Linked DNA regions of Homo sapiens: region 2 is linked to region 1. Evidence: fine-mapped expression QTL. A gene starts in region 1. The other region holds a variant in brackets. All regions are shown on one strand. Distances are from middle to middle. Region 1 holds the start of BRF1 (BRF1 general transcription factor IIIB subunit). Region 2 overlaps BRF1 (BRF1 general transcription factor IIIB subunit).

The links. PIP is the estimated chance that this variant, and not a neighbour inherited with it, causes the effect.
Region 2: its variant is the best candidate, but not a certain one, in a credible set for the expression of BRF1 in whole blood (TOPMed, PIP 0.87).

What each region holds. Positions count from the first base shown.
Region 1 is chr14:105,293,352-105,308,778 of GRCh38, reverse strand. BRF1 (BRF1 general transcription factor IIIB subunit) reads left to right here and starts at 7,778. Exons shown (of 18, transcript NM_001519.4): 1 at 7,778-8,333. The coding sequence starts at 8,150. It also overlaps the pseudogene LOC124903409 and a transcript of PACS2 not described here. RefSeq lists silencers at 7,097-7,466, 7,697-8,106 and enhancers at 8,957-9,036, 14,517-14,646, 15,287-15,406.
Region 2 is chr14:105,262,852-105,278,278 of GRCh38, reverse strand. It overlaps BRF1 (BRF1 general transcription factor IIIB subunit), which reads left to right. Exons shown (of 18, transcript NM_001519.4): 3 at 5,385-5,558. Among named protein-coding and RNA genes, the nearest start is that of BTBD6, 22 kb to the right of the region's middle. RefSeq lists an enhancer at 3,176-4,079. The variant C/T (reference allele first, on the strand shown) is at 7,355.

The DNA of each region.
Region 1 (15,427 bases):
CTGGGCACAGTGGCTCATGCCTGTAATCCCAGCACTTTGGGGGGCTGAGGCAGGCGGATCATGAAGTCAGGAGTTCCAGACCAGCCTGGCCAACATGGTGAAACCCTGTCTCTACTAAAACTGCAAAACTTAGCTGGGCACAGTGGCTCATACCTGTAATCCCAGCTACTCAGAAGGCTGAGGCAGGAGAATCACTTGAACCCAGGAGGCGGAGGTTGCAGTGAGCCAAGATTGCACCACTGCACTCCAGCCCGGACGACAGAGCAAGACTCCATCTCAAAAAAAAAAAAAAAAAAAGACAGAATCTGCCTCTGTCGTGCCCAGGCTGGAGTACAATGGTGCCATCTCAGCTCACTGCAACTTCTGTCTCCTGGGCTCAGGCAATCCTCCCTCTTCAGCCTCCCGAGTAGCTGGGACCACAGGCATGTACCACCACACCTGGCTAATTTTTGTATTTTTGTTAGAGATGCTGTTTTGCCATATTTCCCAGGCTGGTCTCAAACACCTGGGCTCAATCAATCCTCTCACCTCAGCCTCCCAAAGTGCTGGGATAACAGGTGTGAGCCACTGTGCCCGGCCTAATTGTTTTTTTGGGGGGGACAGAGTCTCACTCTATGGTCCAGGCTGGAGTGCTGTGGTGTGATCATAACTCACTGCAGCCTCAGTCACCTGGGTTCAAGCGATTCTCCTGCCTCAGCCTCCCAAGTAGCTGAACTAGAGGCACGCACCACCACGCACAGCTAATTTTTAAATTTTTTGTAGAGACAGGGATCTCACTTTGTTGCCCAGGCTGGTCTCGAACTCCTGGGCTCAAGCTATCCTCCCACCTCTGCCTCCCAAAGTGCTGGGATGACAGGCGTGAGCCACTGTCCTGGCCTGGCCCTTGACTTCTGTGGTGGAAGGTGGACTGGAGCCTCACCAAGTCTCACTCGAGTTGCGGAGAACAGACAGGAACAGGGACTTGCCTTCTGAGCAGTCTGTCTACCAGACACATGTCCTCCATCATACTCCGCAGTGCTAGGGTGGGCTATTCTTATCCCTGTTATGCAGATGAGGAAGTAGAAACCTAGAGAGATTGAAGCACTTGCCCAAGGCCAGGCAGCAGGTGAGAAGGTGAGAAGGCCATAGAAGCTTGCTTTCTCATTTCCCCTGCTGACTGCTGCATGGGGGGACAGGGCTATTGAGTACCCAGGAGTTATTTTGATCAAATGTGATAAGATGACAGACACAGAGACAACCGCCTTTGAAAGAGGAGTTTATTACTCACAGTTCCCAGGAGGAGGGGCACGTGGGGAAGCACCCAGGGCCAGTCAGGACAGGGAGGGGGTGAAGGGAAAGGGTGGGCAAGAGCCTTTATTGCCATTTTCCAGGCAAGGCAGAGGAGGCAAGCTGAGCAGAATTAGAACTGGGTCATTTCAGTGGGCTCTGGGCTTGGGGGTGGTATCTAGCTAGCTGGTACCTGGCCTTGGGGTGATTTAGGGCAGGGGGCTAGTGTTCAGGAATGCAGGAGCCTGATGAAAGGAGGCAGGTGGGACTCATGATGGTTGCTCTGCATATCAAAGGTATGCTCAGCCTGCACGGTGGCTCAAGCCTGGGATCTCAGTACTTTGGGAGGCTGGGGCCAAAGGATCTCTTGAGCCCAGCAGTTTGAGACGACAGTGAGCTATGATCATACCACTGCACTCCAGCCTGGGTGACAGAGTGAGACCCTGCCTCAAAAAAAAAAGAAAAAAAGAAAAAATAAAGTAAATAAGGCATACTCAGAGGCAAGTGGTCAGCTGTCTCTAGGAATTAGCTAACCCTGGGAGGGGAGTCCCTCTCTAGGTCCACGAGACCCCAAGATGTCAAAGCACCACAGATGAGAACACGATGGGGCTTGGCACGGTGGCTCACGCCTGTAATCCCAGCACTTTGGGAGGCCAAGGCAGATGGATCATTTGAGGTCAGGAATTCAAGACGAGCCTGGCCAACATGATGGAACCCTGACTCTACTAAAAATACAAAAATTAGCTGGGCGCAGTGGCAGGTGCCTGTAATCCTAGCTACTTGGGAGGCTGAGGCAGGAGAATTGCTTGAACCCGGGAGGTAGAGATTGCGGTACATCAAGATCGTGCCATTGCACTACAGCCTGGGCGACACAGCGAGACTCAGTCTCAAAAAAAACCCCCAAAAAACAGGCCAGGTGTGGTGGCTCATGCCTATAATCCCAGCACTTTGGGAGGTTGAGGTGGGCAGATCACGAGGTCAGGAGATCGAGGCCATCCTGGCCAACATGGTGAAACCCCATCTCTACTAAAAATACAAAAAATTAGCCGGGCATGGTGGCATGCACCTGTAATCCCAGCTAATCGGGAGGCTGAGGCAGGAGAATCGCTTGAACCTGGGAGGCAGAGGTTGCACTGAGTCGAGATGGCGCCGCTGCACTCCAGCCTGGGGGACAGAGCAAGACTGTGTCTCAAAAACAAAACAAAACAAAACAAAACAAAACAAACCCAAAAACAAAAGACACCATGAATGAAGAAAGCCTCCAGGAGGGGAAGTTTGCAGGTGCCTAGGCGTGTCCTTCAAAACTCTAACCCTGCTGGTCAGGTCATTTTTCTCAGGCCCTGAGAAAAGGAAATCCTTCCTGGTCTAAGTGTTACGAGCACGTTCAGTTCAGATTAAAGCAATTCTCTCATTTCAGTGCAACACCTACATTACTTTCCAGCTCTCTGGGGCCCCCATGAAGGAATGTTCCTGCCCCACACCCCCAGCCTGGGCCCCGCTCTGCTGCTGTGTGCTGGAGTCAGGTCTAGGGGCAAGCCCACAGCCTCTCCCTGTTTACAGCCAGAGCGGAGATCACTGCACGTTTCCAGCGTCCTCTTTGGCGCGGTGCGAGTGAGGGTCCTGCCTTGCAGGGCTGAATGAGGAGTACAGAGGACCCTGGGCACAGGAAGCTGGTGCTGGGTGCCCAGTGTGGGTGCTCTGAGGGCACTGGTGCCCCTTGGCCGCCCTTGCTTGACTCTTTGAGCTTGTCAGTCAGTCCTAAATGTTTCCAAGCTTCCTGGGGCGCTTGCAGCATGGGGCACCTAACCGGTCCCCAGGGCAGTTCTCCGCATTCTCCCTCTAACCTGGCTCCATTCTTTATGCCTTCACATCACGTGGGGAGCGTTACTCCCTGCCTCAGTTGGTTCACACTGCAATGGCAAACCACCACAGTCCAAGTGGCTTATAAACCACTATTCATTTCACAGGACGGTGCTGGCAGATGCCGTGTCTGGTGAGGGCCACTTCCTGGTTCATAGACAGTGCCCTCTTCCTGCATCCTCACATGGGGGAAGCAGCAGACAAGCTCCCTCCAGCCACGTTTTTTCTTTTTTCTTGTTTCTTTTTTCTTTGAGACAGGTTCTCAATCTGTCGCCCAGGCTGGAGTGGAGTGGTGTGATCTCAGCTCACTGCAGCCTCAACTTTCTGGGCTCAAGCAATCCTCCTACCTCAGCCTCCCAAGTAGCTGGGACTACAGACACATGCTACCACAACCGGCTAAGTTTTTGTAGTTTTTGTAGAGTCAGGGTTTTGCCATGTTGCTTAGGCTGGTCTCAAACTCCTGGACTCAAGCAATCCTCCCTCCTCAGCCTCCCAAAGTGCTGAGATCACAGATGTGAGCCACTGTGCCCAGCCAGCCACTTTTCTGAGGGCATTAATCCCGCTCATGAGGGAAGCAGCCCTCATGACCTCATCTCCCAAAGGCCCCACCTCTCTAAAACCATCGCCTTGGGGCAAGGACGTCAACATATGGACTTTGGGGGAACACACATGATATGATTTGGCTCTGTGTACCCACCCAGATCTCATCTTGAATTCCCACATATTGTGGAGGGACCTGGTGGGAGGGAATTGAATCATGGGGGCAGGTCTTTCCCGTGCTGTTCTTGTGATTGCGAATAAGTCTCACGAGATCTGACGGTTTTATAAGAGGGAGTTTCCCTGCAGAAGCTCTCTCTCTCCCTGCTGCCATCCACGTAAGACGTGACTTGCTCCTCCTTGCCTTCCTCCATGATTGTGAGGCCTCTGCAGCCACGTGGAACTACAGGTCCAATAAACCTCTTTTGTTTGTTAATCGCCCAGTCTCACGTATGTCTTTATCAGCAGTGTGAAAACAGACTGATACAATGCACATTCAGACCATAGCACCCCTCCTCTGCAGCCCATCTGAGCAAAGGCTTAGTTCTGGCAGCACGCACCTTGGGCCATTGCCCAGTAGAGCCTCACCCTTTTTTATATTTTATTTTATTTTATTTTATTTATTGTGAGATGGAGTTTCACTCTTGTCGTCCAGGCTGAAGTGCAATGACGCCATCTCGCCTCACCACAACTCCCGCCTCCCAGGTTCAAGCAATTCTCCTGCCTCAGCCTCCCGAGTAGCTGGAACTACAGGCGCCCACCATCACACCTGCTAATTTTTGTATTTTTTGGAAAGATGGGTTTCACCATGTTGGCCAGGACGGTCTTGATCTCTTGACCTCGTGATCTGCCCTCCTCAGCCTCCCAAAGTGCTGGGATTACAGTCCTGAGCCACCGAGCCTGGCTGAAACCACACCCTTTAAACCTCTTACCGTTGTGGGTGTGGTCTTCCCCACCCTCTGCTCCTCTGGCCAATCCTGTCCTGTACAGCCTGACTGTCCTGTACTGCCTGACTGTCCTGCACCGCTGTGGCCTGGGAGGCATGCTGCCCCTTGCACCTGCAGGCACCTCACAGGCTTTGGTGAGGGAGCACACGAAATAACCCCTCTAGTCTGTCAGGTGAGAGCAAGGATCCAGTGGCCACATGGCCTCAGATTGGATTCTGGCTTTGTTACCTACTGGCTATGAGATTTGGGGCTGTCACCCCTCACATCCTCAAGGGCTCCCTCCATAAAATGGAGACAACAGTGTCTGCAAGCTAGTGTTGCCATAAGGATGAAATGTCATCATGGACAGAGAGCATTTTGCATAGAGATCAATAATACATATTTGAAAAATCCCCAACATTTAGAAACAAAACAATACACTTCCTAATAACCCTTGGATCCGGGAGGAAATTAAGAGTGGAGACAATCTTGAGCTGAATGAAAATGAAAACACAGCACATTGAAATGTGCAGGATTCAGCTAAAGTGGTAATTACAGGGAGAATTATAGCAATAAAATGCCTATTTATAAAGGAAAAGAGATCTTAAATCAATGATTTCATCTTTCACCTTAAAAAACTAGGAAAAGGCCAGGCGCGATGGCTCACGCCCATAGTCCCAGCACTTTGGGAGGGCGAGACAGGTGGATCACGAGGTCAGGAGATCAAGACCATCCTGGCTAACACAGTGAAACCCTGTCTCTACTAAAAATACAAAAAATTAGCCAGGCATGGTGGTGGGCACCTGTAGTCCCAGCTACTTGGGAGGCTGAGGCAGGAGAATGGCATGAACCCGGGAGGTGGAGGTTACAGTGAGCCAAGATCGCACCACTGCATTCCAGCCTGGGTGACAGAGCGAGACTCCACCTCAAAAAACAAAACAAAACAAAAACTAGAAAAAGGGGCCGGGTGCATTGGCTCACGTGTAGAATCTCAACACTTTGGGAGACCAAGACAGGTGGATCACTTGAGGTCAGGAGTTTGGGACCAGCCTAGCCAACATGGTGAAACCCCATCTCTACTAAAAATACAAAAATTAGCTGGGCGTGGTGGCACATGCCTGTAATTCCAGCTACTTGGGAGGCTGAAGTGACAGAATCACTTGAACCTGGGAGGTGGAAGTTGCAGTGAGCTGAGATGGCACCACTGAACTCCAGCCTGGGTGTTCTCTATCTCAAAAAAAAAAAAGAACTAGAGAAAGGGCGGGGAGCAGTGGCTCATGCCTGTAATCCCAGCACTTTGGGAGGACAGGGCGGGGAGCAGTGGCTCATGCCTGTAATCCCAGCACTTTGGGAAGACAAGGCGGGTGGCTCACTTGAGCCCAGGAGTTCCAGACCAGCCTGGGCAAATGAGGCAAAAACCCATCTCTACAAAAAATATTATCTGGGTGTGGTGGCACATGCCTGTAGTTCCAGCTACTCGGGAGGCTGAGGTGGGAGGATCACCTGAGCCCAGGAGGTAGAGTCTGCAGTGAGGCTTGATTATGCTACTGCACTCCACCTTGGGTGACAGAATGAGACACTATCTCAATTTTTAAAAAATGAAGAAACTAGAAAAAGGGAACACATTGAACCAAATTAAGTGGAAAGAAGGATCTAACAAAAATGAGAGCAGAAATTAATGAAATAGGGCCATGCACGGTGGCTCATGCCTGTAATCCCAGCACTTTGGGAGGCTGAAGTGGGCGGATCACCTGAGGTCGGGAGTTCAAGACTGGCCTGACCAACATGGAGAAACCCCGTCTCTACTAAAAATACAAAATTAGCCAGGTGTGGTGGTGCATACCTGTAATCCCAGCTACTCGGGAGGCTGAGAGAGGAGAATCGCTTAAACCCAGGAGGCAGAGGTTGCAGTGAGCCGATATCTCACCACTGCACTCCAGCCTGGGCAACAGAGCAGAGACTCCGTCTCAAAAAAAAAAAAAAAAGAAAGAAAAAAAAGAGGGTGGGGTCTTCCGCATTTCCTTTTTTCTCTTTTTTTTTTTTGAGACAGAGTTTCACTCTTGTCACCCGTCACCCAGGCTGGAGTGCAATGGCGGGATCTCAGCTCACTGCAACCTCCACCTCTCAGGTTCAAGTGGTTCTCCTGTCTCAGACTCGCGAGTAGCTGGGATTACAGGCGCCCACCACCAAGCCTGGCTAATTTTTTTGTATTTTTAGTGGAGACGGGGTTTCGCCATGTTGGCCAGGCTGGTCTCGAACTCCTCACCTTACGTGATCCGCCTGCCTTGGCCTCCCAAAGTGCTGGGATTACAAGCGTGAGCCACTACGCCTGGTTACGCATTTCTTTTTAGGCTCATTCCTGGGTATGTCACCGGCCCTATGGCGATTGTGAACAGCACCTGCAGATATTTGAGGGCGTGCGCAGCCAGGGTTCCCGCTCTGGGCAGGGGGCACAGCGAGGTGACTCACGGGTAACCACAGGTGGCCACGAATGACTGCTAGAAAGTGGGAATTTTAGGGGAACAGAAAACGGAGAATAGCGGGGCGCACGGGGAGGCTCTGGAACCTGGGCGAGCGGAGCGGCGGACGCCGCAAATGCGGAGGGCGGGGCAGGGTGGCCCCTGGCGGGTGTCTCCACCTCTGCGGCCAGGCCCCCCAGCGCAGCTGCCCTGGCCCCGCCCACCACTCCCAGAGCCCGGGGTTGGGTCCCAGGTCGCCCTCAGGAGCCAAGGCCCCGCCCACCACGCTCGGCCCCCTCGCCTCAAGCCCCGCCCACAGTTCGGGTCCAGACCCAGGCTCCGCCCCCTTCCCCCGCCCACAGCTCCAGTTCCCTTCGCAGGCCGTCTCTCCACGGGAGGCCCCGCCCCCCACCCTCAGCCCCGCATCCGGCTGAGTCCTCACCCCAGGCCTCGCTCGCCGCTGGAGACCGCGCTCACTATCCGAGGAGGACCCTCCTCTGCCCCGCGTCCAGCTTTAGTCCCCGACTGCGTTCATCGCCAAGGGCCCGCCCACTGCCTTAGGTCGCGTCGCCAGCCTTGGGTCCCGTCGCCAGCCTTGGGTCCCGTCCCCGGCTGCACTCACCGCGAGGCCCCACCCTTAGCTCTAGTCCCCGGTGTCGCCCACCGACGAGGCCCCGCCCCAAACTCCAGTCCCGGGCTGCGCTCACCGCCGTGGCCCCGCCCCCAAGCGCCAGTCCTCGGCTGCGCTCACCGGTAGGCCCCGCTCGGGTTCCGCCGAAGCCCAGCCCCCGCAGGTCGCCCCTCCGACGCCGGCGCGCCGCAAGGGAGGCCAGCTCGCTCGCAGTGGGGAGGTCGCGGCTCCAGTCCTCGCGTCCCCGCCGTGGTCCCGGTGCCTGTCCCATCCCGCGGGCGCGGCCGTTGCGGGCGGCGCGGCCCGGGCGCGCGCGGCGAATCTGCGGCTGCGAATCGGCTGGAGCGGGGCCTCGCGAGAGCGGCGAGGCCTGGGCGGCTGGGCCTGGGCGGGCGGCGCGGGCTGCTCCGGAGGCTCGGGTGGCTTGAGAGTCTTGGGAGGCTCCGGGCGCTGCCCGCGCGGTCGCCGGCATGACGGGCCGCGTGTGCCGCGGTTGCGGCGGCACGGACATCGAGCTGGACGCGGCGCGCGGGGACGCGGTGTGCACCGCCTGCGGCTCAGTGCTGGAGGACAACATCATCGTGTCCGAGGTGCAGTTCGTGGAGAGCAGCGGCGGCGGCTCCTCGGCCGTGGGCCAGTTCGTGTCCCTGGACGGTGAGTCCCGCGGGCTGGCGCTGCGCGGATTTCTCGGTGCGGCTTAGGCGGGCTGGAGGCGGTGACGGCGCGGCCGGGACCAGCGCCTCGGTACCGCACGCTCTGTCGGGGCGCGCGGTTCTGCGCCGTCTGGGCGCGAGTGTGGATCCCCTTGGCGAGAATGTAGACCTTCTTCGCGCGCCTGTGGACCCCCGTGGCGTGCGTGGACTTCCTCGACACACGCGTGGGCCAGGGCAGCCAGCACAGGGAGGGTTGAAGAGAGCCTGGGGAGCCCAGAAGGCCCCTCAAGCTGCCCCTCACTGTCACTCTCTGTGCCTGCAGTTTTGTTTTCAGCAATGTCTGGTACTTAGAATCCGATTGCTGCTGCCCTTGGCCTTGGTGGTTACCGGGCGGATGCCCTAGGGCCACTCAGGCTGCTGCAGGCCTCGGAGGGGACGTTTCAGTGATGGGCAGTATTGCGGGCTGGGGATGGACCCCAGCCTGTGGAAGGAGCTGGACTGTGGCCAGTTTCAGGTGGTTGTGAATAGAGCTGCTAAAAGGATTCATTTGCAGCTCTCTGTGTGAACATACGTTTTCATTTCTCTGGGGAACTTAGCTGTATGTGTAACTCTATGGGAAACTGTCATGAACTGTTTTGTGATGTGGCTGTGCCATTATGCATTCTCACCAGTTGCCCCACATCTTCACCAGCACTTGGTGTTGTCGATGTTTTTATTTCGGTTGTTCTAACAGGTGTGTGGCATCTCATCATAGTGGTATTCTGTATTTCTCTACTGGCTAGTGATGTTCAACCTTATTAGGGTGCTTATTTGCCATGCCCGAATCCTCTTTGTTGAAATGTGTGCTCAAGTCTTATTTTTTTATTTATCTCGAGACAGGATCTCACTCTGTGGCCCAGGCTGGTGTGCAATGGCCCAGTCATGGCTCTCTGCAGCCTTGAACTCCTAGGCTCAGGCAATTCTCCTGCCTCAACCTCCTGAGTAGCTGAGACTACAGGTGCATGCCACCATGCTGTGATCATTTATTTTATTTTATTTTTAGTAGAGACAAGGTCTCTATGTTGCCCAGGCTGGTCTCAAACTCCTGGGCTCAAGTGATACTCCAGCCTTGGCCTCCCGAATTGCTGGGATTACAGCGTGAGCCACCACACCCTGACTCTCATTTTTTATTTGGGTTGTTTTCTTATTGTTGAGTTTTGGGAGTTCTTTGTGGATTGTAGTTACAAGCCCTTTGTTGTATATGTGATTTTCAAAGCAGAAGTTTTTTTTCTTTTGAGATGGAGTCTTGCTCTGTTGCCCAGGCTGGAGTGCAGTGGCTCGATCTCGGCTCACTGCAAGCTCTGCCTCCCAGGCTCACGCCATTCTCCTGCCTCAGCCTCCCGAGTAGCTGGGACTACAGGAGCCCACTACCATGCCCGGCTAATTTTTTTTGTATTTTTTAGTGGAGACGGGGTTTCACTGTGATAGCCAGGATGGTCTCGATCTCCTGACCTCGTGATCCGCCTACCTCGGCCTCCCAAAGTGCTGGGATTACAGGCGTGAGCCACTGCGCACGGCCTCAAAGCAGAAGTTTTAACTTTTTTTTTTTTTTTGAGACAGAATCTTGCTCTGTGGCCCAGGCTGGAGTGCAGTGGCACAATCTCGTTTCACTGCAACCTCTGCCTCCCAGGTTCAAGTGATTCTCGTGCCTCAGCCTCCCAAGTACCTGGGATTACAGGCGTGCGCCACCTCACTTGGCTAATTTTTGTATTTTTAGTAGAGACAGGGTTTCACCCTGTTCGTCAGGCTGGTCTTGAACACCTGACCTCAAGTGATCCGCCTGCCTCAGCCTCCCAAAGTGCTGGGATTACAGGCGCGAGCCACCGCACCTGGCCTAAATCTGTGGTCCATCTATGTTTTGTATAAGGTGTGCTTTGTAGGCTGAGGCTCATTGTTTATCTGGAGGTCCCCTTGTTTCAACACCGTTTGTTGAAAGACTGAAGGCCTTTGCTCCCTCGGCTGTGCTCACTGGGCCCCGTCCGTGCAGGTCTGTCTCTGGGCCTTGTGTCCTGCCCTGTTGATCAGGTGCCGTTTTCCTTTGTCAGCATCACACGCTTTTTTACTATACCTGTTATATTGTCCTGAAATCAGATATTGTGAGTCCCTCAACCTTTGTTCTTCCTTTTCAAAGTTGTTGTGGCTATTAATTTCCCTTTCTCTTTTTAATTTTAGAGTAAGTTTGTGCATCTCTGCAGGTCACATATTCTTACCTGAAATGCTTGGGACCAGAAGTGTTTTGGATACCAGAGTTTTCTGATTTTGGAATATCTGCATTATAATTACTGGTTAAGCATCCCTAATCGAAAAATCTGAAATCTGAGATGCTCCAGTGAGCATTTCCTTTGAGCATCGTGTTGATACTCAAAAAGTTTCATGTTTTGGAGCATTTATTTTTTATTTTATTTTTTTCTTGAGACGGAGTCTCGCTTTGCTGCCCATGCTGGAGTGCAGTGGCACTATCTCGGCTCACTGCAAGCTCCGCCTCCTGGCTTCACGCCATTCTCCTGCCTCAGCCTCCCAAGTAGCTGGGACTACAGGCGACCGCCACCACGCCCGGCTAATTTTTTGTATTTTTAGTAGAGACGGGGTTTCACCGTGTTAGCCGGGATGGTTTCGATCTCCTGACCTCGTGATCCACCTGCCTCAGCCTCCCAAAGTGCTGGGTTTACCAGCGTGAGCCACTGCACCGGGCCGTTTTGGAGCATTTATAATCTCAGATTTTTGGATTTGGGATGTTCAACCTGTACAAAAGTCCTGGTGGGGTTTTCATTGGAATTGCATTAAACCTCTTGATATATTTAGGGAGAGCTGACATTTTTTCTTTCTTTCTCTTTTTTTGAGACAGAGTCTCACCCTGTCACCCACGCTGAAGTGCAGTGGCGCGATCTGAGCTCACTGCACCCTCCGCCTCCCGAGTTCAAGTGATTCTGCTGCCTCAGCCTTCTGAGTAGCTGGGACTGCAGGCACACGCCACCACACCCAGCTAATTTTTGTATATTTTTTAGTAGAGACGGGGTTTCACCACATTGGCCAGGCTGGTCTCGAACTCCTGACCTCGTGATCCGCCCTCTTCGGCCTCCCAAAGTGCTGGGATTACAGGTGGGAGCCACTGTGCCCAGCTGACATTTTTTCTATGTTGAATCTTGTAGTCCATGGAACACAGTGTATGTTTGCATTCATTTAGATTTTCTTTGATATAGTCTGTCAGTGTTGGGTAGTTTTCAGCATACAGCTTCTGGACTTTTTTTTTGAGATGGAGTCTCGCTCTGTCACTCAGGCTGGAGTGCAGTGGTGCAACCTCGGCTCACTGCAACCTCTGCCTCTTGGGTTCAAGCGATTCTCGTGCCTCAGCCTCCCAAGTAGCTGTGATTACAGGAGCCCACCACCACGCCTGGCTAATTTTTGTATTTTTAGTAGAGACAGGGTTTCACCATGTTGGCCAGGCTGGTCTCGAACTCCTGACCTCAAGTGATCCCCCCCCACTTCAGCCTCTCAAAGTGCTGGAATTATAGGCATGAGCTGCCGTGCCTGGCCCTCTGGACATTTTTTAGATGTGTACCTAAGCTCTATTAGGAGTTATTATAAGTGGAATTTTTTTAATTTAGTTTTCAACTCTTCATTGCTTGTTTATATAAATATGGTTGATTTCTGTGTGTTGTCCTGTTTCCTATGGCTTTGCTAAACTTACTTGTTCTAAGAGGTTTTTTTTTTTTTTTCTTTTTTTTTGAGCTGGTGTCTTGCTCTTGTTGCCCAGGCTGGAGTGCAGTGGCACCATCTTGGCTCACTGCAATCTCCGCCTCCCAGGTTCAAGAGATTCTCCTGCCTCAGCCTCCCAAGTAGCTGGGATCACAGGCACCCGCCACCGCACCCAGCTAAGTTTTTTGTTTTTTTTTTTGAGACGGCGTCTTGCTCTGTCACCCAGGCTGGAGTCCAGTGGCACAATCTCGGCTCACTGTAAGCTCTGCCTCCCAGGTTCATGCCATTCTCCTGCCTGAGCCTCCCAAGTAGCTGGGATTACAGGCGCCCAGCACCACGCCCGGCTAATTTTTTGTATTTTTAGCAGAGGCGGGGTTACATGGATGGTCTCAATCTCCTGACCTCGTGATCCGCCCACCTCGGCCTCCCAAAGTCCTGGGATTACAGGTGTGAGCTGTTGCACCCGGCCGCAGTTTTTGTATTTTTAGTAGAGATGGGGTTTTGCCATGTTGGCCAGGCGATCCACCCGCCTTGGCCTCCCAAAGTGCTGGGATTACAGGTGTGAGCCACCACACCTGGCCCCTAAGAGTTTTTAATACACTCCTTGAGTTTTTTTTTTTTTTTTTTTTTTGAGATAGAGTGTCGCTCTGTTGCCCAGGCTGGAGTGCAGTGGCGCAATCTGGGCTCACTGCAACCTCCCCCTCCTGGGTTCAAGCGATTCTCCTGCCTCAGCCTCCTGAGTAGCTGGGATTACATAGGAGCCCACTACCATACCCGGCTGGTTTTTGTATTTGTAGTAGAGATGGGGTTTCACCATGTTGGTGAGGCTGGTCTTGAACTTCTAATCTCAAGTGATACACCTGCCTTGGCCCCTGAAAGTTCTGGGATTACAGGCGTGAGCCACCGCACCCAGCTTTTTTTTTTTTTTCTGGGACAAAGTCTCACTGTTGCCCAGACTGGAGTGCAGTGGTGTGATCACAGGTCACTGCAGCCTGGAACTTCTGGGTTCAAGAGATCCTTCCACCTGAGACTCCAGAGTAGCTAGGACTACGGGCATGCACTACCATGCCCAGCTAATTAAAAAAATTTTTTTTTGGTTGGGGAGACAGGGTCTAGGGTCTTGCTCAGTCACCCTGGCTGGAGTGCAGTGGTCATGGCTTACTGCAGTCGTAACCCCCTGGGCTCCAGTGACCCTCCCAGCTCAGCCTCCTGAGTTGCTGGTACTACAGGTGCGCCCTACTATACCCAGCTAATTTTTGTATTTTTCTTGTAGAGATGGGGTTTTGCCATGTTGACCAGGCTCGTCTGGAACTCCTGGGCTCAAGTAATTCTCCCGTCTTGGCCTCTCAAAGTTCTAGGATGACAGGTGTGAGCCAACGCCAATTTTTTTTTTTTTTTTTTTTTTTTTGTAGAGATGTGGTCTTGCTTTGCTGCTCAGGCTGGTCTCGAACTTCTGACCTCAAGGCATCCTCCCACCTTGGCCTCCCAGAGTGCTGGGATTAGCGGCATGAGCTGCTTTGCTCAGCGCCGGATGTTCTGTTGAGGGTTCCTGCTGATGCTTGCGTGGGATATTGGCCTGTAGTTTTTCCTGTAACGTCCTTGTCTTGGGTATCAGGGTTCTGCTCCTTATGGAATGGGTTGGGAAACGTTTCCTCTTCTATTTTCTGGAAGACATTATGTAGAGTTGGTGTTCTTTCTTTCTGAAATGTTTGGTAGAATTCACCAGCGTAGCCATCTGGTCCCAAAGCTTTCTTTCTCAGAAGATTCTGCACTGTGGTTTCGGCTTCTTTCATCACTGAGGTTCTAGTTATATTTAAGATGCTGTGTTTCACCTGGGGTGAATTAGCCGCTTGTGTTGAGGAATTGGTCCACTTGACCTAGTTGTTGAATTTGCCCAGAGAGTTGTTCGAAGCATTCCCTTATCCTTTTGATATCTGCGGGGTCCACAGTGGCCTCCTTTTTCCTTTCAGATGTTGGTGTTTTGTGTCTTTTTTTCCCTTTGTCTCTCTTGCTAGAAGTTGATCCGTGTTTTTGATCTTTTCTAAGAACTGGCTTGGGCTTCATTGAGTTTTCTCTCCTGCTCTTCCCTCCCCATCGTCTTCCATGCTCATACTCCCTGGGTATCTTCCTAGGACTGCTGGGCACAGAGTTTGCAGCTGTGTCACAGTTGCCAAGACTTGGATGTCTGTTGGGATGATAACAACAGTAATGAAAGCAAGTTGTCATGGCAGCAGACGCAGGGTTTCCCGGGCAGGCACAGTGTTAAGTGCATCCGGGCCTGGTGACAGCGCACTGCCCTCACTGTGCCCTGCCGGGGGAGGATGGTGGTGTGGAGCAGTGCAGAGCTGGAAGTCTGTCACCCGGGTGCTGTCAGAACAAGCTCAGAGCCAGCGCTGTCAGGTGGCCCCAAGACGCCTCTGAGCCCAGGCACACTCTCTGGAGGGAGGCGCAGGCCCAGCAACCAACTGTGGTGGTCCTGGGGGAAGTGCTGCGAGGCGGCGGGTTCTTAGCCCCTGGGGACCGGCGCAGGTGGTGCCTGGGCCGAGAGTGGGGAGGAGAGAGGGGATCTGTTGCTCTGGGCAGCCCCTCTGTCTCCCAGGCAGGCTCTCTAGGTGCCCACTTGGCATCCTTCCTCCCTCGTCACAGTGGTGATCACAGGGGGCTGGAAACCTTGGTGGCTTCTCAGTTTCCCTGGCACACAAGTAGGCCCCAGCCGCCCCTTCCTCCAGCTTCATCTTGAAAGCTGAGCTTTCTCTCTGAGCTGTCGTTTTCTAGTCCCAAGGCCACTGTCTTTCCTAGGTGTTTTGCCTATTAATTGAGAACTAAGCCTGATACAGCTTCGCAGTTTACTCTGGAATATTTAACTAAGGCATCAGGGCAGGTGACCAGAGGCCTCAGGAGAGTCCCCAGAGGGTCCTGACCTTGGAAGCCAGGCCCCACGGGGGAAACCACACTGGTGCTCCAGCGTCCCGGGGCACCCGAGCAGAGACTGTGCAGAGAGAAGGGTGGGTGAGGACTGAGGCTCAGCGTGGCTGGAGGGGCCAGGCAGACGGTGGAGTTGGGGGCCGTTGGCAGTGCCCTGAGGAGGCCGTCTGCTCCACTGAGGCAAGGCGGGGCTTCCCTGTGAGCCCACATCAGTGTCCTGCACTGTGTGTGCCCTGAGGCTTCCCTCTGCCAGCAGGTGATGGTGATGGCGCCCACACACCAGACATCCTGGGCTCCTGCTTGCAGGGGTCCCTCCTCGTCCTGTGCAAGGAGCAGCACACCTCAGTGTCACCAGAACTTGTGGGGGTGGGGAGCGTTTCCCGTAATCACAACTTTCAGTGGCTTCACAGTTAGAACTTCGAAGCTGGGGTGTCC
Region 2 (15,427 bases), 30 kb after region 1:
ATCTCACTATGTTGCCCAGGCTGGTCTTGAACTTCTGGGCTCAAGTGATCTACCTGCTTCAGCCTCCCGAAGTGCTGGGATTACTACAGGCATGAGCCACGGCACACAGCCTGAGTTTACTTTTAGAATTCATTTGTTGGAAGGAAGTCTAAGGAGACTCGCAGGCTATGGCTAGCTAATTAGTAGTTGGTTTCTATGTGAATATCTGTTTATTAATAACATATTTGGCCAGGCACAGTGGCTCATGCTTGTATCCCAGCACTTTGGGAGGCGGAGATGGGTGGATCACAAGGTCAGGAGTTCGAGACCATCCTGGCCAACAGTGTGAAACCCTGTCTGTACTAAAAATACAAAAAATTAGCTGGGTGCAGTGGCATGTGCCTGTAGTCCCAGCTACTCAAGAGGCTGAGGCAGGAGAATCACTTGAACCCGGGAAGCAGAGGTTGCAGTGAGCTGAGATCGCACCACTGCACTCTAGCCTGGGTGACAGAGCGAGACTCCATCTCAAAAAAGAGAAAGAAGATGGTAAAAAATAACTTACTGCAGTCATCATAAGCCCCCATTTTAGTCCTTTTGGGCTGCTGTAACAGAACACCATAGACCAGAAAGGCAAAACAGCAGGAATGTGTTTCTCACACTTTTGGAGCTGGAAAGTTTGAGCTGGAGATGGGGGAGACAGTTGCCTCCTCCCCAGCTCTCTAGTGAGGGCCGCCTCTCAGCTCCTTCTCACTGTGGCCTCCTCCCCAGCTCTCTAGTGAGGGCCGCCTCTCAGCTCCTTCTCACTGTGGCCTCCTCCCCAGCTCTCTAGTGAGGGCCCCCTCTCAGCTCCTTCTCACTGTGGCCTCCTCCCCAGCTCTCTAGTGAGGGCCGCCTCTCGGCTCCTTCTCACTGTGGCCTCCTCCCCAGCTCTCTAGTGAGGGCCCCCTCTCAGCTCCTTCTCACTGTGGCCTCCTCCCCAGCTCTCTAGTGAGGGCCGCCTCTCGGCTCCTTCTCACTGTGGCCTCCTCCCCAGCTCTCTAGTGAGGGCCCCCTCTCAGCTCCTTCTCACTGTGGCCTCCTCCCCAGCTCTCTAGTGAGGGCCCCCTCTCAGCTCCTTCTCACTGTGGCCTCCTCCCCAGCTCCCTAGTGAGGGCCCCCTCTCGGCTCCTTCTCACTGTGGCCTCCTCCCCAGCTCTCTAGTGAGGGCCGCCTCTCGGCTCCTTCTCACTGTGGCCTCCTCCCCAGCTCTCTAGTGAGGGCCGCCTCTCGGCTCCTTCTCACTGTGGCCTCCTCCCCAGCTCTCTAGTGAGGGCCCCCTCTCAGCTCCTTCTCACTGTGGCCTCCTCCCCAGCTCCCTAGTGAGGGCCCCCTCTCGGCTCCTTCTCACTGTGGCCTCCTCCCCAGCTCTCTAGTGAGGGCCGCCTCTCGGCTCCTTCTCACTGTGGCCTCCTCCCCAGCTCTCTAGTGAGGGCCGCCTCTCGGCTCCTTCTCACTGTGGCCTCCTCCCCAGCTCTCTAGTGAGGGCCGCCTCTCAGCTCCTTCTCACTGTGGCCTCCTCCCCAGCTCTCTAGTGAGGGCCGCCTCTCGGCTCCTTCTCACTGTGGCCTCCTCCCCAGCTCTCTAGTGAGGGCCGCCTCTCAGCTCCTTCTCACTGTGGCCTCCTCCCCAGCTCTCTAGTGAGGGCCCCCTCTCGGCTCCTTCTCACTGTGGCCTCCTCCCCAGCTCTCTAGTGAGGGCCGCCTCTCGGCTCCTTCTCACTGTGGCCTCCTCCCCAGCTCTCTAGTGAGGGCCCCCTCTCGGCTCCTTCTCACTGTGGCCTCCTCCCCAGCTCTCTAGTGAGGGCCGCCTCTCGGCTCCTTCTCACTGTGGCCTCCTCCCCAGCTCTCTAGTGAGGGCCCCCTCTCAGCTCCTTCTCACTGTGGCCTCCTCCCCAGCTCTCTAGTGAGGGCCGCCTCTCGGCTCCTTCTCACTGTGGCCTCCTCCCCAGCTCTCTAGTGAGGGCCGCCTCTCGGCTCCTTCTCACTGTGGCCTCCTCCCCAGCTCTCTAGTGAGGGCCCCCTCTCGGCTCCTTCTCACTGTGGCCTCCTCCCCAGCTCTCTAGTGAGGGCCGCCTCTCGGCTCCTTCTCACTGTGGCCTCCTCCCCAGCTCTCTAGTGAGGGCCGCCTCTCGGCTCCTTCTCACTGTGGCCTCCTCCCCAGCTCTCTAGTGAGGGCCCCCTCTCAGCTCCTTCTCACTGTGGCCTCCTCCCCAGCTCTCTAGTGAGGGCCGCCTCTCAGCTCCTTCTCACTGTGGCCTCCTCCCCAGCTCTCTAGTGAGGGCCCCCTCTCAGCTCCTTCTCACTGTGGCCTCCTCCCCAGCTCTCTAGTGAGGGCCGCCTCTCAGCTCCTTCTCACTGTGGCCTCACGTGGTAGAAGAGCTGGGCTAGTTCTCTGGGGTCCGGTTTTTAAGGGCACTGAGCTCATCATTAGTGCTCTGCCTCCTGACCTAGTCTCCCGCAAAGGCCCTGCATCTTAATACCATCCCCGTAGGGGATAGGATTTCAACATAGGAATTTTAGGAGTCAGACATTCTGACCATAGCAGCCCTGCATGCTGGGAACACGAGCTGGTGCCTGTGGGGTCGGGGCTTGGGATCGAGTCCCAGCCTCAAGTGTGTGGCCTCAGAGAGTACCTCTCTCTTACCTTTTATTACAGAATTTTCAAACATACAGCAGAGAGCTGGTAGGTAAGGAGCCGTAGCTTCAGCGGGTCCCCTGTCAGCTGACTCTGTTTCCCTCTGGGCCTTGCTGGGCCGCGGGGACGGTCTGTGCTGGTGTGTCTGGCTGGTGCTGCACATGTGCAGGTGGCAGCTGGCACGATGCCCTTTCTGTCCATTCTTTTGGGGTCTTGGCTTGGCCCAGGCCTCAGCTCTGGGGACAGTGACCAGCCTTCCACGTCAGCTCAGCTGGACTGCAGGCCTCAGAGCTGTATGAGCTCTAGGCAGGTGGCCTTAGGTGCTCAAGGTGGCAGGGCCACAGCCGGGCTGGGGGCTCCATGTGATGCTGCTGACTGCCAGGGGCCTGGCAGTGTGAGGCTTGACCTGGACCTGCCAGACTGTGTACCCTGGCCACCGGCTTCCTTGGGATGCAGGCTCAGCAGCTGCCCACCTCTGGCTGCTGGTCATCATTAGTGAAGTTTGGCGTGAGCAAAACATCAGCCCTCACTTTCTCCAGCTCATGTGCCCTTATCAAATAAATCTGGGAGGTCAGTTTTTGACTTTATATGGGGATGGAGGCCGCCTCAGGTAGTCTTTGCAGGAGGACTGTGGGTTTGGGTGCCAGAGGATGCAGTGGGAACTGGAATCTCCATGGCGGCAGCATTCCTCTGCATCGAGCCGTGACCCACCACACATGTCCTCTGGGTACCCCATGGGGCTAATTGCCTGGAGCAAGGACTCTGCCTGCCCACGACGCCCACTGTGCAGACAGAAGTGGGGGCAGTAAAGTTGGCTCAGGTGCTCCCCACACAGCCTGTGCTCTGCAGACAGAAGTGGGGGCAGTGAGGTTGGCCCAGGTGCTCCCCACACAGCCTGTGCTCTGCAGACAGAGTGGGGCAGTGAGGTTGGCCTGTACTCTGCATTGACATTTGTTTCCCAAGGTTCCTCCTGCCTGCAGGGCAGCTTTGCCATTTCCCTCCTGATGCCATCATGTGGCCCGCAGCTTTGGGAGGGTCTTGCTCCAGGGAGGCGCGTGTGCTCGGATGTTGCCGTCCTGGCCACCTCCAGCACCTCGCAGCCCCTAGGAGGGCGCAGTGGCCTCCGGTCTGCTGGGCATGCCCTTACCATGGTGAAGGGGTGGCCTGCCCCTCCACACCTGTGGGTATATCTCGTCAGGTGGGACGAGAGACTGAGAAAAGAAATGACACAGAGACAAAGTATAGAGAAAGAACAGTGGGGCCAGGGGACCGGCACTCAGCATACCAAGGACCTGCACCGGCACCGGTCTCTGAGTTCCCTCAGTTTTTATTGATTATTATTTTCACTATCTCAGCAAGAAGAATGCGGCAGGAGAGCAGGGTGATAGTGGGGAGAAGGTCAGCAAGAAAACATGTGAACCAAATAATCTGTGTCATAATTAAGTTCAAGGGAAGGTACTATGCCTGGATGTGCACATAGGCCAGATTTATGTTTCTCTCCGCCCAAACATCTCAGCGGAGTAAAGAATAACAAGGCAGTATTGCTACCAACGTGTCTAATCTCCCGCCATAGGGCGGTTTTTCTCCTATCTCAGAATTGAACAAGTGTACAATCGGGTTTTATATCGAGACATTCAGTTCCCAGGGGCAGGCAGGAGACAGAGGCCTTCCTGTATCTCAACTGCAAGAGGCCTTCCTCTTTTACCAATCCACCTCAGCACAGACCCTTCACGGGTGTCGGGCTGGGGGACGGTCAGGTCTTTCTCATCCCACGAGGCCATATTTCAGACTATCACATGGGGAGAAACCGTGGACAATACCCGGCTTTCCAGGGCAGAGGTCCCTGCAGCTTTCCGCAGTGTATTGTGCCCCTGGTTCATCGAGACTGGAGAATGGCGATGACTTTTACCAAGCATACTGCCTGTGAACACTTTGTTAACAAGGCACGTCCTGCACAGCCCTAGATCCCTGAAACCTTGATTCCATACAGCACAGGTTTCTGTGAGCTCCAGGTTGGGGCAAAGTGGCTGGGGCAGAGTTACAGATTAACACCTCAGGGCAAAGCAGTTGTTCAGGGCACAGGTCAAAATGGAGTCTCTTATGTCTTCCCTTTCTGCATAGACACAGTAACAGTCTGACCTCTCTTCCTTTTCCCTACACCATGGCCCTCCCTCTGGGCAGGTGCAGGGGATGGCGCTAGCCTGGCTTTTTCTCAGGCCGGGTGGCTGGCTCTTAGAGGAGAGGCTGGCGGGCGCAGGGCTGAGCAGAATGGGCCCTGCTGAGAAGGGACGGGTGGGCTGACCCAGACTCTGTGCGGTTGGGGAAGGCGGTGGCGCTGGGGCATGTGGCTGTAGGAAAAGGGGCATTCCCACTGTAGCCCAGGGCAGTCAGGGGCATAGCACCTGCCAGCCAGCCCAAACCAAGCCCTTGCCAGACACGCCGCACCTCAGAGCCCTGGAGAGAGGCACATTCAGCCACACCGCACACGCCACTCAGAGCCTAAAGAAGGGAAACAGGTAGAACAGGATCTCATGGCACATGGAGATCACAGAAAATTCACATTTCAGTGTCCTTAAATAAAAAGTGATTGGAACCCACATATAAAAAGTGAGCTCAGAAACTTACAAGGAAAAGCACAAATCTATATTCTTAAAGTTGCTGCTGTGGCCGTGTGATACTTTTCATGTTCTGTGGGAACATTTGGCTAAGAGCTGCCTCGTGCTGTGTCCTAGGGAGGCGCCACATCCACCACCTGGGGAACCAGCTGCAGCTGAACCAGCACTGCCTGGACACCGCCTTCAACTTCTTCAAGATGGCCGTGAGCAGGCACCTGACCCGCGGCCGGAAGATGGCCCACGTGATTGCTGCCTGCCTCTACCTGGTCTGCCGTACGGAGGGCACGCCGCGTATCCTTTGGTTTGAGAGCCTCCCAGAGGGCCCCATCTTGATGCTTAGTTGGCTCCCCTCGAATATTGGGACTTGGTAGTTGCAGTAACTTGGTGTTTGTCTTTAATAGAAAAACACCTTACTGGAAGAACTGTTTCAGTTGATCCAGGGCTTTCTGAATTTGGGGTCTCCTTTTACTGGATCGAAGAACTGGGGAGCTGGGCACCTGCCTTCCTCGCACAGCCCTTGGGCATGCAGAGCGAGGGTTCTGTCGGTGCCTGAGAATCATGCCCTGGATTCTCCCCACTTGTGGACCTACTGCGCCTTGGGTGCTGTCTCCACGTCCCCTGTGGTTCAGGCCGCCCTCTGGCCTGAGCAGGTGGGGTGCTGTTGCTGAGTGGGCTGCAGCCAGGCGTACACCGAGTGCCTGCAGCTGTGGACACCGTGACTGTGGGCGATGGGTGGGGAGGCCGCCGACCCTCAGCGGTGTGCAGCTCGGCCTTGTGCGTGGATACCGTGACTGCAGGCCGTGGGTGGGGAGGCCGCCGACCCTCAGCGGTGTGCAGCTTGGCCTTGTGTGTGGACACCGTGACCGCAGGCGGTGGGCGAGGAGGCCCCCGACCCTCAGCGGTGTGCAGCTTGGCCTTGTGCGTGGACACCGTGACTGCAGGCGGTGGGCGGGGAGGCCGCCGACCCTCAGCGGTGTGCAGCTTGGCCTTGTGCGTGGACACCGTGACTGCAGGCGGTGGGCGGGGAGGCCGCCGACCCTCAGCGGTGTGCAGCTTGGCCTTGTGCGTGGACACCGTGACTGCAGGCGGTGGGCGGGGAGGCCGCCGACCCTCAGCGGTGTGCAGCTTGGCCTTGTGCGTGGACACCGTGACTGCAGGCGGTGGGCGGGGAGGCTGCCGACCCTCAGCGGTGTGCAGCTTGGCCTTGCGTGGAGATCCAGTGTCTGGTGTTCTCTTGCACTGGTCTCTGTGCATCTGGTCCTGTGCCCACTGCTGCCATCTGCAGACACACACATGGGTCAGGAGCTGCCTTCGGCCTCTTGACAGGGAGCCCAGAGCCTTCCAGCCTCCTCTGCTCTGTGCTGTGCTGTCCACACCTGCTGTGCACCTGCATCTTTTCCCTGCTCTCTGGGGACTCCCCGCTTCCTGGTCCACACCCTCCTCATCTTGTGAGGTGCCTCCTGCAATGGCTCCCTGGGAGAGGGACCTTTTCCGAGCTGCGCCCCTCTGAAGGTGGTCCCCCTCCCTGCCCTGTGTCTGGTGGGCGTGGCGTGCCCGGCCACATGTCTGCCTCCCAGCCTGCGCCCCTGCCGTCGCCTTGCCTCCAGCATTCTCACTGGGCAGTTCTGTGGCCCTCTGGCTCCTGGCCCTTGCTGTGCAGCTGCGGGGCTTCAGCTCCTTGCCTCTAATCTCCACGTTCAGAAATCTCACGGCAGTGTGAGCCCATCAGGCCTTTGCTCTCTGACAGCTTCCTGTCCTGAGCTTCTGTTGAATTCGTCGTTAGATGTGTCTCCCTTCTTCTCTGTTACTCTGCCTGCCACACTGAACCCATGTGTTATCTCATCCTTTTTTGCACGTGGCTATCTTTTTGCTTTGGGACAGCACCTGAACTTTAGCTTCCAGCAGGCTGTTTCATTTCTTTCATGTTTTTCATCTCTAAGAGCTCTGGGTCTTTTCCGAATCTTTTTTATAATCTCCCGTCTTCCTGAGTGTGGCATCTTCTCACCTTGAGCTCTTTTCTGTCTTGGTCTGTTTTTCTGGTTGGTCCCCCTCGAGGGGTGTCCTGGGTGCCAGGTGATCCTGGTGGC[C/T]TGCTTCTCTTTTGAGTGGGGTGCAGGGAGGGCTCCTGGAGATGACGAGCTGGTAGCCTGCTGACGGTGCCTCTGGCCAGGCAACCCTCAGTATCAGGATCTTTCATTAAAATGTTACTTTTTTTTTTTTTTTCCAGACAGGGTCTTGCTCTGTCACCCAGGCTGGAGTGCAGTGGTAGTATCTCAGCTTACTGCAACCTCTGCCTCCCAGGTTCAAGCAATTCTTGTGCCTTAGCCTCTCGAGTAGCTGGGATTACAGGTGTGCACCACCATACCTGGCTAATTTTTTTGTATTTTTAGTAGAGATGGGGTTTCCCCATGTTGGCCAGGCTGGTCTCAAACTCCTGGCCTCAAGTGATCCACCCGCCCTGGCCTCCCAAAGTGCTGGGATTATAGGCATGAGCCACTGCATCCAACCCTGAAAATGTCCTTTTAACATTTTGAAATTTGGGCTGGGCATGGTGGCTCACGCCTGTAATCCCAGCACTTTGGGAGGCCTAGGTGGGCGGATCACGAGGTCAGGAGATCGAGACCATCCTGTCTAACACCATGAAACCCCGTCTGTACTAAAAATACAAAAAAAATTAGCCGGGCGTGGTGGCAGGCTCCTGTAGTCCCAGCTACTCGGGAGGCTGAGGCAGGAGAATGGCGGGAACCCGGGAGGCGGAGCTTGCAGTGAGCCGAGATCGCGCCACTGCACTCCAGCCTGGGCTACAGAGTGAGACTCCGTCTCAAAAAAAAAAAAAAAAAGTCCTTTCAACATTTTGAAATTTGTCATTTCTGCGTAAAAGTGTTTAAAGCACACGTGTGCCTTTAGGGACAGGGATGATGCAGAGTGCCCAGGCAGCCCACTGCAGGGCGAGAGACAGAGCCCACGCCCGCGTCCCTGCCCGCCCCGCCTGCTGTCTGCTTGCCCCGGCTCCACCCTGGGGTCCCACTGAGAGGCCTGCTCCGATCCTGCTCTCTTAGAAGCAGACCAAGGTCCTGAGCGAGAAGCTGAGCAGAGCCCAGGGTCAGCCCATGGCCCTGCCTCCCTTGTGTTTGTAGGAGCTGTGTGGGGACTGCTGTGGAGCAGGGCCTAGGGTGCAGGCCGGCACTGGGACCCCAGCGTCAGCAAGGTGGGGTGGAACCACGTCCATGCTGCTGCCTCACTGGGCCTCCTGTGGGGGGGACAGATGCCCTGGGACATGGGCCTTCATGGGGTGATGACAGGCAGGACGGAGAGCAGTCCTGTGGCACTGCCGGGGCTGCCTCTGAGTCTGGCAGGACCACCTTTAGCCACAAAGTTCCCACACGCTCCAGCGATCCTCCTACTAAGTGTGTGCCCAAGGGAAAAGAGTACCTGTGTCCCCACCGAGGCTCACGCACAGTGCTCACAGTGGCAGCATCCAGGAAGCCACCCCGTGTCCCCCACGCATTCTAAAATTAGATCCTGGTGGTGGTTGCTCAGCTCTGGGGATTTACGAAAACCCACTGCCCGGTGCACTGTGAACAGGCAGGTTTGTGGCACAAACTTGTACCTTATAAAGCTGCTAAGGACAAGACAGCTTGGAACAGGACTGTGCTCACGGGAGGCCGCACTCTATCCCCTCTGGCTGCTGGTGGCCTGGTGGGGCTCCCTTCAGCATCCTCAGAGGATGCTTCGGGCTGGTCTCGGGTAGCTGTAGCCCTCACTTCCCAGCCCACCCCTGCTTTGCCGGCACTTTAGAGGGAAGTGGGTCAGGCCAGGTGTAGCATGTCCCGCTCTGCCCTCCCTTCAGGTTGCGGGCAGCACCGTGCCCTAGGCCTGCCAGCCAGAGCCCCCAGACCCATCCTGGACACGTCTCCGTCTCTCACCGCCCTCCTTGTTTTCTCCTGCCCCTGTGCCTTCTCCCTCCCTGCTGACCTGCATTGGCTCTGGCCACTGTCCTCGCCTCCTGCAGCCCCAGCTGGCTGGCTGGGCTCATGTGCTGCCTCAGTTTCCTCAATAGCTCCACCCACTTCCCTTCCACAGAAAATCCACCCAGGAGAGGGTGTGTGCAGCCAGGCTCTCTTCTCCGAGACAGGGCTGCTTGGCCCAGCCCTGCTGCCTGCACAGCTCCCGTCACCTTCTGGACTCGCCACCTTTAGCCAGGGCGCAACAGCACCCACCACCCCACCTCCACCCTGCCGTCAGCAGGACGTGGAGGGTCCTGTGCAGTGAGCTTACGTTGTGGGGTGCATGGCCCCCACCCCAGGAGAGGCCCCCCAGGATCCTCCTATCGTATCGTCCAGCCCATGGGTGGGACCAGTGCCCTGAGCCCAGGGCTGGATACAAGAAATCCTCTCTCAGAAGGAACAAGGGCTTGATTTAAGAACATCCAAGCTTATTCCTCCTTCTGCCCACCCTTCATTGTTGCCCGATCCTCAGGTGTGTCCACTATCACCCCGAAAGTGCCGGGGGCTGTGCACACACACCTCCTCTCTTGGCCCCGTAGCCTGGTGGCTGACACAGCCAGTCCCGGATTCCTGGAGGAGGAACGGGGTGCTGCTGAGTCCCACTGAGTCTGGCAAGGCCCGGCTGACCCTAGGCCTGAGTCTGCTCCTGGCTCCCAGCCCAGGGAGGCTGCGTGGGCAGCAGGGCTGAGACACGGGACCTGGACATGCCGGGCAGAGACTCAGCTGGAATGAGCACCTCTGCCATTGTCGAGCAGGTAGTTTGTGGCCAGTGTGCTTTTCCTGGCTGTGTGTCTCGACTTGTTATTGCAGCTTTTGCCCACAGCTGGTTTGTGGGTCTTTGACATTTGTTCCTGTCCAGCCAGGCTGCCCTAGGCCTGCATGTGAGAGGGCATCTTGGGATGGTGACAGGCTGGTGAGCCCTAGAGGGCGTCAGAGCCCTGGGGCCAGCACTGTGGATGGTGCCATCACCTGTCCCCACGTAGGTCTGCAAAGAGCATGCCCAGCTTCCATGGCCTGCCAGCCTCAGCCTCCATGGCGTGCCTGGCCACGCGTGGGAGCAAGGCCTCTGCCGCCAGCCGCCACACTCCCTTCAGACCCAGCTCCTCTCTCAGGCTGCAGAACCGTCCGTTCAGGTCAGCAGGGGCCATGTGCATTCAGCTTATTCCATTCTGGGGTCTGGGATGGGCTTTCAGAGCCCACACTTCTCTGCCCCCCTGTTCTGGCCAGCACCTCCTTCTGCCACCAGGCCCCCTTGTTCCTGCTCCTCTCCCTCTGCTGCCTTCTCAAGGACAGGGCATTTATAACAGTTTAAGTGGTCAGAAGAAGGTATTAGGATGGCTGATGAGGGAATCAAATGGTGCACACATCATTAGGCATGAAGACGTTGGCATTTCAGGTCAGGCACAGTGGCTCACGCCTGTAAATCCCATCACTTTGGGAGGCCCAGGCAGGAGGATTGCTTGAGTCCAGGAGTTTGAGACCAGCTTGGGCAACATGGTGAAACCCCGTCTCTACAAAAGAAAAAGAAAACAAAAAAAAAAATCCAGCTGGTGGTGTGTACCTGTGGTCTCACCTACTGGGGAGGCTGAGGTGGGAGGATCGCTTGAACCCAGGAGGTCGAGGCTGCAGTGAGCCATGATCGCACCACTACACTCCAGCCTAGGCAATAGAGTGAGCCCCGTCTCAAAAAAAAAAAAAAGTTGCCATTTCAGACTTCCGAAAGGCTGACCTGGAAACACCGGCACACCCAGCGTGGGCCCATGTGGGCCCCTTGTCGGTGGTGTCTTGTTGCTGGCGTAGCAGAGGTTTAGCTGAGTTTTGTATGTTGACATTATTAATACATCATTCCTACCAAATTCAATTGTCGATCTTACTGTTTGAGTTTTGGAGTCTCTCCTTTAATGCACACAACTGTGTCTGCTGCTCATAATGCCAGTTCTGCTTCTTTCTTTTCATTTTTTTCATGAGACAGGATCTCACTTGATCACCCAGGCTGGAGTGCAGTGGCGCAGTCTTGGCTCACTGCAGCTTCTGCCTCCCAGGCTCAAGCGATCCTCCCACCTCAGCCTCCCGTGTAGCTGGACTACAGGCATACACCACCACCCCTGGCTAATTTTTGTACTTTTTGTGGCGACGGGGTTTTGCTGTATTGTCCAAGCTGGTCTCAAACTTCTGAGCTCAAGTGATCTGCCTCCCTCAGTCTCCCAAAGTGCTGGGATTCTAGGTGTGAACCCCCCGCCCAGCCTTGGTTCTTCCTTTCTAACCCACACACCTCTCATCTGTTTGTCCTGCCTTTTGTATGCCGAGGACTCAGCATGGTCCTGGGGAGGGAGATGTGCCTGGCTCTCTCCTGTCCTGGGAGGGGTGTTTTCTGCCCTTCGCTCTATGTATCTGCGGTAGACTTTTGTGTATAGGACTCTTTATCAGCTTGAGGATGTTACCTTGCTTTCTAATTTTCCAAGAGTTTTTGTCATGAAAAATACTGAATTTTATCAAACACCAATGTATTTATTGGTATGATTTTTTCATGTACATTTTCCCCTTAATCTGTTACCTAACGTAAATAACACTGATTAATTTTTTAAAATTTTTTAGAAACAGGGTCTTGCTCTGTTCTCCCAGGCTGTACCACTGTGGCACCACCCTAGCTCGTTGCAACCTCCAACTCCCTGGCTCAGGCGACTCTCTCGCCTCAGCATCCCGAGTAGCCGGGACCATAGGTGCACTAGAGATGGGGTCTCACTGTATTGCCCAGGCTGGCCTCAAACTCCTGGGTTCCAGTTATCTTCTCATCTTGGACTCCCAAAGTGTTGGGATTACAGGTGTGAGCTATTGTATCTGGCCTGTTTTTTCTAACATAAGCACTCGAGGCTATAAATTTCTCTCTAGGTGAGTTTCGTTACATCACACGGTTTTTTGTTTGTTTTGTTTTTTTTTGAGACAGAGTCTCACTGCCTCACCCAGGCTGGAGTGCAGTGGTGCCATCTCGGCTCACTGCAACCTCTGCCCTCTGGGTTCAAGTGATTCTCCTGCCTCAGCCTCCCGAGTAGCTGGGATTACAGGTGCATGCCACCATGCCCACCTAATTTTTTTTTTTTTTTTTTTTTGAGAGGGAGTCTTGCTCTGTCGCCCAGGCTGGAGTGCAGTGGCATGATCTCAGCTCACTACAAGCTCTGCCTCGCGGGTTCACACCATTCTCCCGCCTCAGCTTCCCGAGTAGCTGGGAATACAGGTGCCCGCCACCACACCTGGCTAATTTTGTTTTTGAATTTTTAGTAGAGAAGGGGTTTCACTGTGTTAGCCAGGATGGTCTCAATCTCCTGACCTCGTGATCCATCCGCCTCGGCCTCCCAATACTGCTGGGATTACAGGTGTGAGCCACTATGCCTGGCCCATGCCCAGCTAATTTTTGTATTTTTAGTAGAGAGGGGTTTCACCATGTTGGCCAGGCTGGTCTCAAACTCCTGACATCAGGTGATCTGCCCACCTTAGCCTCCCAAAGTGCTGGGATTACAGGCGTGAACCACTGCACCCGGCCCACTACCTGCTTTTAAGAAATATTTTTGTGTTTGGATTTGGCAGTTTGACTCTGATGTACCTAGATGTGGTTTTCTTTGTGTTTATCCAGATTATTTTTTGTAGAAGTTCAAGGATTTGTGACTTGGCTGGGTGTGGTAGTTTATGGGTGTAATCCCAGCGCTTTGGGAGGCTGAGGTGGGTGGATCACTTGAGGCCAGGAGTTTAGGACCAGCCTAGGCTAATAAAAGAAATTAGCCAGGTGTGGTGGTGCACACCTGTAGTCCCAGCTACTCAGGAGGCTGAGGCAGGAGGATCACTTAAGCCCAGGGGTCAAGGCTGCAGTGAGCTGTGATGACATCAGTGCATCAGTGCATTCCAGCCTGGGCGACAGAGTGAGACCCTGTCTCTAAAAAAACAAACAAACAAAAAAAAAACAAAAAAAAGGATAAGTAGAACTTATGACTTGATGTCTTTTGTCTACGTTGGAGACATCTTGGGTAGTATCTTTTCAAATAAAGTTTCTGCTCCACTCTCTCTTCCTGTTCTGGGACTCCATATATTAGCCTTTCTCTCTTTTGCTCATCCTTTCTTTTGCTGTGTCTAATCAGGTGTTGAACCCATCTACTAACTTCTTAATTTTTTTTTTAAGAGATGGAATATCGCTGTGTTGCCCAGGCTGGAGTGCAGTGGTGCAGTCACAGCTCACTGCAGCCTTGACCTCCCAGGCTCGAGCAATCCTCTCACCTCAGCCTCCATAGTAGTTGGGACTACAGGTATGCGCCACCACACCCACTCAATTTTTTTTTTTTTTTTTTTTTTTTTGAGATGGAGTCTCATTCTGTCACCCAGGCTGGAGTTCAGTGGCACAATCTCGGCTCACTGCATGCTCTGCCTCCCGGGTTCATGCCATTCTCCTGCCTCAGCTTCCCGAGTAGCTGGGACTACAGGCACCCGCCACCATGCCCGGCTAATTTTTTTTTGTATTTTTAGTAGAGACGGTGTTTCACTGTGTTAGCCAGGATGGTCCCGATATCCTGACCTCGTGATCCGCCCACCTCGGCCTCCCAAAGTGCTGGGATTATAGGTGTGAGCAATCGCGCCTGGCCATCAATTTTTTATAGAGATGAGGTCTCACTGTGTTGCCCAGGCTGGTCTTGAACTCCTGGGCTCTTTATTTTTTGTAGAGAATGGTGTCTTGCTATGTTGCCCAGCCTGGTCTTGAACTCCTGGGCAGAAGCTATTCTCCTGCCTTGGCCTCCCAACGTGCTAGGATTATAGATGTGAGCCATCACTAAGACTCCTTTTATTAGAGTCCAGTTCTTTGGTAAGATTCTTCATTTCTTCATAGTTAGGTGAAAGTCATTGATAAGCCAAATAGTTGAATCATTTGTGGTTCTGTTTTTATTATCTTGATTTTCTTTTTGTTTTTGTTCCTTTGGTCTTGTCTTTTGTCATGCTTGGTAATTTTTCATTGAATCGCTGGAATATTAGGTCTAAAATATTACAGAGATGATGGATACTTTTCCATCCAGAGGGAATTTAACTTTTCTTTTTTTTTTTTTTTGAGACAGAGTCTCACTCTGTTGCCCAGGCTGGAATGCAGTGGCACCATCTCTGCTCACTGCAAGCTCCGCCTCCCAGGTTCATGCCATTCTCCTGCCTCAGTCTCCCAAGTAGCTGGGACTATAGGTGCCCGCCACCACATCCGGCTGATTTTTTGTATTTTTAGTAGAGACAGGGTTTCGCCGTGTTAGCCAGGATGGTCTCGATCTCCTGACCTCGTGGTCCGCCCATCTCACCCTTCCAAAGTGTTGGGATTACAGGCGTGAGCCATCGCGCCCGGCCGGGAATTTAACTTTTCTTGAGCAAGCAGAGAGCACGCAGGTAGCTCACTCTGATCCAGTTGCTGCTGGTCCGTCTTGGTTCCCGGCTGAAGGATCGTGGCAGGACCCAGGTGTCCCTTCCTGGCACCTCGGGACTGCAGAACTTCCTGCTCGGCTCTTTTGCCTTTCAGAGCTGACTTCTGGGCTTGGCGGGCCTCAGCCTGGTGCCTGTGGCTCCAGGGGCGGCAGCTGCCGTAAAGGGACTAAGTGCACTGTGCCCTGCTCGCTTGTTGAAGTTGCTTCCTCTTCTCTTGGCAGCTTGGCCCCTCGTGTCTGGCTGGCTCGGAAGCCACTGAACTGTAAACTCTATCTTCCCTTGCCAAGCGAGACTGTGAGCACTAGGCTCCTACTTTTTTTTTTTTTTTTTTTTTGATGGAGTCTTACTCTGTTGCCCAGGCTGGAGTGCAGTGGTGCCATCTCGGCTCACTGCAACCTCTGCCTCCCGGGTTCAAGCGATTCTCCTGCCTCAGCCTCCCGAGTAGCTGGGATTATAGGTGCCCACCACCATGCCTGGCTAACTTGTATTTTTAGTAGAGATAGGGTTTCACCATATTGGCCAGGCTGGTCTCGGACTCTTGACGTTGTCATCTGCCCGCCTCGGCCTCCCAAAGTGTTGGGATTACAGGCGTGAGCCACCGTGTCCAGCCACTTTTTTTTTTTTTAAATGGAGATGGGGTCTTGCTATGTTGTCCAGGCTGGTCTTGAACTCCTGTCCTCAGGCAATCCTGGCCTGGCACTGCCAGACTATGACAGC